Homo sapiens: one gene and its partners. The protein of the gene in region 3 interacts with the protein of the main gene of each other region in a pairwise test. Each region holds a gene or a part of one and is shown on either strand. Other genes may lie near its edges.

Region 1 (3,654 bases), on a different chromosome or scaffold from region 3:
AGAAGCCCTCCAACTACATGAAGAAGTGAAGTGAATTCTCAGAGGCCAACCAAGACACTGGCCCAGCCAAGAGGCTTGAAGGCAGCTGGATAAGGGCCTGTAAGGCTGCTTTGCAGAGCTGAGCTGAGGCAAGCACACCAGGGTCTCTGGGCAGCAGGAGGAGGGTCACAGCAGGCCCCTTCCATGCCTCTTGACTACAGTGCTGGCTGCTGGCAACGCTCGGGACTCTGCATTAGCATTTTGCAGACTGACAACTATTCCAGCATGCCCCATACTGAGAATTATAGGGACATTCTTAACTCTTTTCTGAACACAACTATTTCCAATTTCTCAGCTTTGCTCAAAGACAGGTACACACCTGTCTTTCTAAACTGAGTCAAATCTAAACTACCTGATATTTGCCGAACCAGCCCACTTGGAACTGGCCAGAGACTGGGCTCCCCACTGTGATCTGGAGGTGGCTGATGGTCAGTTGTGCAGCAAGGGAATGGGGCTGGAAGAAAGGGGTCTGGAGTTACTCACAGTCCTTTATAGAGGATGCAGCCAGCGAGAATGTGAGGCGAGCGCTGGCAGGTCTGCAGAATGCGGGCTGCCTTCAGCAACAACAGGGGCTCCACCTGTGCAGGGCAAGAGGCATCATGCCCACCCATCAGCATGCTCACAATCAGGAAGGGAGAAAAGGGGAAAGGGTTGTACAGAACAGCTGGACAGGGTGTAGCTCAAAGCCTGGAAAAGGAGAATGTGTCACACAGTGAAAGCTGTGCCATGGCTTGGGACTATTCTACCTCTCTATACTCAGAACTGCTGACACCACTAAATGCCAAATTCTTAGAACAAGGAGGCCTGTCCAGAAGCTAGAAGGTGCAGCAAATATGGCATATGGCTATTCAAAGGGGTCAAAGTAGATGGCCTGGGAGACCGACTGTCTACCCTGACAATGCTAAGACCTCACGGCAGCAGAAGAGGAGGGTGTATCCTATAAATACATGTCATGGTACCAGGTGAAACCCACCTACCCTATCCTCCACTTTCCTTCTGAAGCACAATCCCCATGGTGATACAGGTGGCTTGATGTCTGACCAGGTTCCATGACTCTATTCCATCACATAAAATGAAAACATCATGCTCTTTCACTCGGGGAAATATGCCTCAGTTCCACATTCCTTGTATGGAGTCAGGGGCCTAGAAGTCCCTAAAAATACAAGAAAAGCATCTGGACCTGGTCAGGAAGAGCCAGCAATAACCAGCAGCCTCCTCAGACTTCCACCTGCCAGCTAGAACCAGCAAGTATCCACCAGCTGTTAGAACTAGTGTTAATGGAGCCTCCGGAGCTGCTGACACATTAAGAAGTTTATTCTTCATAGCCTCAAGACTGTGCCATCCCAGCCAGCCATTCTATAAAGCTCTGGGGCCAGCTACAGGAAGTTTTCCAGACTGGAGCAGGGAAAACCCTTCCCCATGTCTGGTGGAGTCATGCTCTGTGAAGGCTGAGCCACAGTGCTACACCCCTGCTACAGGGACATTATTTACTATCGCAGTGAGACACAGGAGAGGGCTGTGAGTCAGGGCTCAGGTAGCTGGCTCTTAATGGGGCAGCACAGGTGGTCAGGCCAGCCACACAAGCAGCCTAGGTTTCACTGAGTGCCAACCGCAAACGGAGCGGCTCAGAGATACAAAAACAGTTCCCAACCATTCTCTCTCAAAGACAGCAACCTTGTTTTTGAAATGTTCATGCTGGGCATTTTTGATGCTGAGAATAACTAGATCATATGATATGAATATCAAGAGAGGCGGCCTTCAGATTACTGAGTTCAACACTTCTGAGGCATGAACAAAATACTAATTCCCTTTACTGAGCATTTACTTGGTGTCATTTGAGGTACTGCTTCACTTGATCATCAAAACAGTTCAAGAAGGCAGGTATGCTGACACCATTCTTTGGATAAGGGAAATGAGGCTGAGAGGTGACCTGCCGTGTCATGGCCCTGCCTGAGAAGTGACATTCTACTCACTTTTCCAGATATAGTTCACTTCAGGAATATTAAAAAAGTATCCAGAAGCCCTAGTCTTACATATAAAATGAATAAGGAGGATGAAAATGTTACTTTAGTTTGGTCCAAGTTCCAGAGGGAATTGAAAATCTTATGCAGATCACTGGTGTTTTTCAGAATTTGCTCGATGAAGGTGTCCCACTCCGTGCTCAGTTCTTCCTGAGAACAGTTCTAAAACAGAAAGAGCCTCAGGTCAATATCTGAGATTTTGAGGGACAGATTCTTTGGCCAGAGTCCCAACTACCTCAAAAATTGTTCCTCACACAGGAAACTGACCGGAAGGGAGGACCTGTTTTAAACCTATCCCATCACAGATCCACGGCGCCTGCCGCGTGGGGGTGGCAAGCAGGGCCTGCGCTTTCTAAACATCCCAGGGAGGAGATGGGGATAAACATTTGGAATAAATGTGACCTATGCCACTAGGCCCAAAGGCATATGAGGGGCCTCCAAGAGCTCCTGACCTTGTCCCCAGACACAATGTGTTTATATGAAGTATACAAGACCCCAGAGTAAGTGCTGCATTCTGGCAATACCGGTTTTTATAAAGAGGCCCAATGTAAGACTCCTCAACCCCATACTTGTACCTCATAAGCTAGGGAAACAGGTCCATTGTAAAAATTAAAGAATCCAACTAGCTGATCCAGAAACCGCTTGCAGCTGACATCAGGGAGCTCCACAGCACAGCCCAGCACCTGTAAAGAGAGAAACCAGGAAGACAAGCATCTTCCTTCTCTTTGAGTCCAAGCCCAGAATCCTGGCATCCAGGGCTCTCAATTACCTGACTTCACTGGCCCATCGAAATTGATCTTCTATTGTCCCTGAGTCCACACCCTTCATTCTGGCCAAGTTAATCTCCATGGACAAGTAAGTTCTGTACCTCAATTCATGTTTTCCAATCTCAAATGTCCTTTTCCTTATTGTTCATTTCCCCAGAACTTACAACCTTCAGTGCCCACCACCAATTTCAGTATCTCCATGAGGTCTGTTCTATTACCTCGAGCCAATAATGCTGACCTTTTTTCTGACCCTTGCATTGTTAGGACTGTTATTTGGACAGTAGATGTTTAATCTGGATTCCATTACAAACAATGGACAGGACTCAAACTCCTTCATGAATGGCCATCATGTTTCTCCAGCTGGATAGAGTGCTTTAAGAGCAAGAACTGACCGCAATCTTCCCAGTCCTAGATCTCCAAAATGCTGAGCGTAGTGGTTAGTTCCACAGAAGATAAATACTTGGCCGGGCACGGTGGCTCATGCCTGTAATCCCAGCACTTTGAGTGGATCACGAGGTCAAGAGATCGAGACCATCCTGACCAACATGGTGAAACCCCGTCTCTACTAAAAATACTGGGCGTGGTGGTGTGTGCCTGTAGTCCCAGCTACTCAGGAGGCTGAGGCAGGGGAATCGCTTGAACCTGGGAGGCAGAGGTTGCAGCGAGCCGAGATTGCGCTACTGCACTCCAGCCTGGCAACAGAGCGAGACACCGTCTCAAAAAAAAAAAAGTACTTGCTGAGTTAGAAAGTTATCTGGTCATATGTTTAAAGAGCCTGAAAAAGTTCCTATTACTTGATGTAGTAATTCTACCTCTAGGAATCTGTC
Region 2 (3,637 bases), on a different chromosome or scaffold from region 3:
GCAGGCTCCCTGAAGCAACCCTCAGGGAGGGGCCCATGAGCCTCATGTTTCAGGGACATGAAGACAGACACAGATGGGTATGTGCCCCTCCCTCCACTGTCCACCACCTGGGTCCACCTCCCCACAGACCTCCCCTGCTGCCATTCAAGGGCCACCTTGGTGAGATGCCCCGGCCCCCACCAGCCACCTCAGACTCTGGGATCTCTCTGTCCTCCTCGCCCCTCCCCCACTCTCAACAGGGGTTGTGAAACAGGTGGGGTTGGGCCCAGGGGTGACTGACACATAAGACCTGCAGGACAGCCTGAAGAGGGTGGCATGCCCCGCACCCAGGCAGAGGGGCAGCGGCTGGTGTGTCAGGGGTGCCCTGAGGAGTTTCTTGTTTGCCCTGCGCTCATGGTTTAGCCACAGCCCAGCATGGCACTGTCCAGAGAGGCCATGGCCCTGTCATGCCTCCCATGTTCCAAGAAGCATCTGGCTCCTGGAGGGCTGCTCCTTCCTTTCCCCCAACCCCTCACCCTCCTGTCTCCAGGGCACCCTCCCTCCCCCATGTGACCACGCCCTGGACGGAAGCCCTGCTGGGATCCCAGTGACCCTTGGTTTAGAAGATGCAGACGGTGTCAAACTCTGCTTTATTGGAATAGAGAATACAGGCAGCAGGAATCACGCTTGGTGCTGGCAGCTCCAGGTCCCCTGCCCCCACGGGCTCTCCCACTTGTCTGGATCAGGGGAGACCTCCACTTTGAAGAACAATATGGGGTGGGAGCTTCCAATGTGCATTCTGCTACCAGCCTCAGGATTAGCAGCAAGATGCCAACAGCAACAGCAACAGCAACAGCAACAGCAACAGCAACAAAGGACTGGACTCGACACTTCAGGAAAGGACGTGTAGAAGAGAAAGTCAGACCCACAGTGTCACGTGTTAACAACGGTCCCACAACAGCAGACACGACACTGGTGTGCACGGCTGTACCACCTGTGGGAGGCTGACAGCACACCGACAGCCCTGAGGGGCCCGGCATTCTCACTCCCAACATGAGAAAGAATTAACACAACACACACACATGTTCACATTCTCTGCGAGGACAGTCAAATTAAGGTACCAAAGGGAGGATAAAACATTTTTAGAGAACACAAAAGCCTGCTGCCCTGCCCCAGTAGGCGTCAGGCTGGACACGACAGGCTGGCTGTGGCCTGGGCTAGCCGGTGAGCTCGACAGGCAGCTCACGGCCACACAGGGCCTCCCACTGGCGAGCCAACAGCGAGATGAGCTTCTCTCTGCTCTCAGCACTGGGGACAAACACCTGCCACTGGACTTCACGGCCCTGGCTGGCTCTAGCCGGGCCACCTGGCACCTCCCCAAAGTGGTCCAGGGTGACACTGCCCATGAGGTCATGACCTTGCACGTCATCGAAGACGAGGGTGAGGGCCTGCGGGTAGGTCTGGTAGCCCATGAGCACTCGGTCCAGGTCCCGGACGCGGCGGCCATCGTCCAGCCGGTACCTGTCTCTCTGCGGCGGCTCTTTGGCAAACTCGGGCAGTGGGTAGTGGACACAGTCCTCATCCAGGAGGAAGATCTCGGAGCTGGTGAGCAGGAGTGTCTTGGGGCGCAGGGGGCCCCTGCAGCACCCAGGGGGTGGCATGCCCACCTGGAAGGCCTGCACGTACAGCAGGATGCTGAGGGCTGGGGCCTTCTCTGGCTCAGCCATCTTTTGGGCCACAGTGAACGTCAGGTCCCCAATCTCCTCCTCACTGGGGTAGGTAAACTTGACGCGACTAGAGTGGATCAGCTCGTAGTTCTCCATCTTCCCTGCAGAGAGATGCCACCTGGGCTATAGCCTGGAACCGGCCCCTGGTGGGGCTGGGAGCACCAAGGGCCCCAAGCCAACCGAGAGACCCCGGCATGAGACAGGCAGGAGAGGATGCTCCAAGTGTGGGGCCCACAGGCCAGGAGCCCAAAGCAGGCACTGGAGATGTGTCTGCCAGATGGTTGAGGGACTGCTGGAGTGGAGACTCTGCCATCGAAAAGCCCCACATAAAACCCTGGCCAGCTAAGTGAGAAAAGAGAGACATAGAGGCAGAGAGGGTTCTGGGGCACAGAGAGCCACCCTGGGGCCCATGACGTCTGTCCAGGCAGCCTGTCTGCAGCCTGAGCTAGACAGGGGTACCTGTGGTCTTGTTCCCAAACTCGGAGTAGAAGTCCTTGTCAACAGGCTCCGGCGAGGGCGTGCGTTCCAGAGAGGACAGCACGACCATGAGGTGCTGGAGGAAGCAGTGCGTCAGGTAGCTGTCCCGCGTCAAGCACGTGACCACCTGCATCGGGGTGGAACCTGCACGAGAAGGGGCTGGTCAGGGCCACAGGCCGGCGCTCCCCAGCCCTATCCCTGCCCCTTAGAGCCACCCCGAGTCCCTAGCAAGCCTCAGCCCAGAGGCCAGGGCCAGGAGGGCCCACACAGGAAAGAATCATGGGGCCCGGGAGGAGGCCATTCCTTCAGGCCGGAAGAGCTGAGGCATTTTTCTGGAAGGGGAGACAGAGACATTAGGCAAAGAGCTTAGCTTTCTCTCCTCAGGAAATGTGAGTCAGAAACATCCTGCCCGAGACCAGGGCCCACTCTGCTTCTGTCCGGGCCAGCGCTTGCCGCACACCCTACCTCCTGCTCTGAGCCCTGGAGCGTGAGTTCTGCTCTCTCAGCAGTTCCTGAAGCTGCTTCCTCCCACCCCGGTTAAGAAGTGGCTCTTGAGCACAGAGATAACTGTCTATGATAACCCACCCACGTACGGAAGGTGGAAGCCCACTGGTGATGCTGGCCTTCACCCGAAATAGGACAAAGCACAGAGGGTCACCCACCCGTCAGCCGGAAATGCTGGTCGAAAAGCCCCACATTGACTGACTGCAGGTCACTAAGCTTTAGCACGAAGCACTGGGAGATGTGGAAAGGGCTGTTGTTGTAGTCGGTGTTTTTCTGATGCCAGAAATCTGTGTGATGGAGAAAGGGACAGAGGGAGGCGGTGGCAGGCAAGCACAAGGTTCCTAGGTGTGCAGCACATCCAGCAGGAACAGGTCCTCTTGGCTGGCCTGGCTTCCACCCGTGCAAAGCCCCATAGGCAATGCCCTCTGGAGTCGGAGCCTCTTCCAGCTCAGGGGAGTCACCAGGTCGCTGGCTAGGGCTTCCTGTGCAGCCCCAGGGGCAAAGGCTGCCTAACCCCTTCTCATCACTGGCTGTTCCCAAGCAGTCACCAGGCCCTGGCTCAGTGCATTCTGCGTTCACATCTGGCCATGGACCCCTCCCTCATGACAGCTCCCTTCCTCAGACAAGGAACTCTCAGCCCACTGCAGCCAAGTCGCTGACTGCTGCCTGAAGCCACACAGCTGGCTCCAGAGAATGACCCCCCAGGCCTGCCCCAACCACACACTCCAAGCTCCTGAGCCCCAGCAGGCCCTGTGCCTACCCTGCAGTGGCTCTGAGAAGTAGCGGCGGAGGCCGTCGTGGAGCACAAAGTACACAGCCTTGGTGGAGAGCAGCACGCAGGCAGTCACCTCCAGCCCTGGGGTCTGGTAGAACACCACCGAGGACCACATGAGGTGCCTCAGCTCCTCGTTTTCAACCTGAAGACGGGGGGCCTCCTGTCAGCTCCACCA
Region 3 (2,593 bases):
ATTTAGTCCATTAATGAATTGTAATTTTGTATCTTCCACACAGCACATTGTAATTGTTACATCAGTTAACAAATGCAGGTTTGTCTGTTCTCCAGTTCAGTAGTTTGCTTTTTTTTTTTTTTTTTTTTTTTTTGAGGTGGAGTCTCACTGTCACCAGGCTGGAGTGCAGTGATGTGATCTCGGCTCACTGCAACCTCCACCTTCCGGGTTCAAGTGATTCTCCTGCGTCAGCCTTCCGAGAAGCTGGGACTACAGGCACGATGCCCAACTAATTTTTGTATTTTTAGTAGAGACCGGGTTCACCATGTTGTCAAGGATGGTGTCGACCTCTTGACCTCCAAAAGTGTTGGGATTGCAGGCGTGAGCCACCGCGCCTGGCCTTGCCTTTTTTCTTAAAACCGAACTGTATCTCTGCTGGGGGCAGTGGTTCACTCCCTACATGACAGTCAGCTCCTCTCACCCAGCATGTCCTTTGATATCCCCATCACTCCCCAGTTGAGGGTCTCATCCACACTCAGTCTAGGCTTTGGTTAGCCTCCATAGAATCAGATAGTCACCAACCACACAGCATATGAACTTCATCCACAAAAGACCACAATTTGCTTTATCAAGTCTGATCACTGCAACAAGTCTTTTTCTAACAAAAAATCTCCTTGAGAGCAAATCACTAAATGTTCAGTAATAGAGAAGACACTAAGTAAATACATTGCCGAATAAAGATGTCTTCGTTTACCCTCTCACAAAGTACAATCCTTCTTAGTATTTCTTCTGAGAGTGATAAAGTCAGCTTGTGTCTTGTGTTATAAAGGAATGTTTTAACTTCAATTAAGAAACTTTCCCCAAGGGTCAAGAAAGTAACAAAAATATTTAGTCCATTAATCGAATTGTAATTTTGTATCTTCCACACAGTACATTGTAATTATTACATCAGTTATCAAATGCACATTTGTCTGTTCTCCAAGTTCAGTAGTTAGCCTTTTTCTTAAAACTGAACTCTATCTATGGAAAGGCTTTCCATTCATAGACAACTTGAATTTAGCTGGATGTATTACAGACTGTATGAAGCAACTCTTGTACCACTGGGGGCCCACCCTCCGCCTGAGACTGTGGAACATGATTTATGGGGGTGGGGGTGCATGAATGGCACACAAATGATGAGTAATTACTAGTGAGAGTAATTCTAGTATGTAGAATGAAAACAGGAATGGTTAAATCATTTTGAAGAGAATGAAGAAGTAAATTAACAATGCATTGCAAATACATTAGATTTTAATCTTTAATATCTAACATTATTGCTTTAGGAAAGTATTTCCCTGAACCAAGAATACAATGCTAATTGCATAAAAACATACACATATAAAAAGTAGTTCTCCATTTTCCCAGGAAAAAATCCAAGTATAACTTCTAGAATAGTCAAGTTTCTTATTTTTATTATAATTAAAGTCTTGGTCATTTCATTTATTAGCTCTGCAACTTACATATTTAAATTAAAGAAACGTTATTAGACAACTGTTACAATTTATAAATGTAAGGTGCCATTATTGAGTAAATATATTCCTCCAAGAGTGGATGTGTCCCTTCTCCCACCAACTAATGAAGCAGCAACATTAGTTTAATTTTATTAGTAGATGATACACTGCTGCAAACGCTAATTCTCTTCTCCATCCCCATGTTGATTTTGTGTATATGTGTGAGTTGGTTAGAATGCATCAACAATCTAACAATCAACAGCAAGATGAGCTAGGCTTGGGCTTTCGGTGAAGATTGACTGTGTCTGTCTGAATCAAATGATCTGACCTATCCTCGGTAGCAAGAACTCTTCGAACCGCTTCCTCAAAGGCTGCTGCCACATTTGTGGCATCTTTTGCACTTGTTTCAAAATAAGGATAGTCGCCGTTGTCCCTGCACCAAGCTTGGGCTTCTTCTGTAGACACCTGCCGTTCGCTTATGTCAATCTTGTTACCCAGAATCACAAAAGGAAAGCTCTCAGGCTCTTTCACATCTGCATAATATATGAATTCTTTCTTCCAGTTACTTAAGTTCTGGAAGCTTTGTGAATCATCGACACTAAAAGTAAGCAGGCAGCAGTCAGAACCTCTGTAAAATGGTGTCCTCAGGCTTCGGAATCGCTCCTGACCTGCCGTGTCCCAAATCTGCATGGTAACAAAATGTCCATCCACTTCCAAATCTTTATTTAAAAATTCCACACCTATTGTATGGAAGAGCTGGGTATCAAACTTATTAGTTACATATCTGTTCATAAGTGAACTCTTCCCAACTCCACCATCTCCAAGGAGAATTACTTTAAAAAGTGATGATTTTCCTGCCATTGTTAATCTCAAAAGCTTCAAGAACCCTGTAAAATAAAAAGGCACCATTACATTCCTTTATACCTACACATTCTTCTACATGATTCTACGAATATCAGCATTTAGCTGAAATAAAACATATGGCCCCAGGGAATACCTAATAATAAGACTTGTTGTTTACTGAGCACTTAGCCATGTGCAGGCTACTATTCTACCATTATTCTCTGAAACAGCTGGGAAGGGCTCACTCTTCCCTTTTCTCAGGTCACAGTTGACTGTGAAGC

What was found.
Region 1: the proteins of RAB9A (region 3) and HPS4 interact in a two-hybrid assay, tested with the Homo sapiens proteins (one study listed by IntAct).
Region 2: the proteins of RAB9A (region 3) and NISCH interact in binary tests that used the Homo sapiens proteins (3 or more experiments, as listed by UniProt).

The regions. Positions count from the first base shown.
Region 1 is NC_000022.11:26,470,197-26,473,850, forward strand, and holds part of HPS4 (BLOC-3 complex member HPS4), read right to left. Parts: intron 2,744-3,654; coding exon 2,636-2,743; intron 2,223-2,635; coding exon 2,106-2,222; intron 1,193-2,105; exon of another isoform or gene 1,095-1,192; coding exon of another isoform or gene 1,017-1,094; intron 727-1,016; exon of another isoform or gene 618-726; coding exon 523-617; intron 1-522.
Region 2 is NC_000003.12:52,490,042-52,493,678, reverse strand, and holds the end of NISCH (nischarin), read right to left. Parts: intron 3,605-3,637; coding exon 3,448-3,604; intron 2,975-3,447; coding exon 2,846-2,974; intron 2,328-2,845; coding exon 2,166-2,327; intron 1,808-2,165; coding exon 1,197-1,807; 3' UTR 611-1,196; downstream 1-610. UniProt on the Homo sapiens protein: Acts either as the functional imidazoline-1 receptor (I1R) candidate or as a membrane-associated mediator of the I1R signaling.
Region 3 is NC_000023.11:13,708,484-13,711,076, reverse strand, and holds the end of RAB9A (ras-related protein Rab-9A), read right to left. Parts: intron 2,357-2,593; 5' UTR 2,331-2,356; coding exon 1,725-2,330; 3' UTR 573-1,724; downstream 1-572. UniProt on the Homo sapiens protein: The small GTPases Rab are key regulators of intracellular membrane trafficking, from the formation of transport vesicles to their fusion with membranes.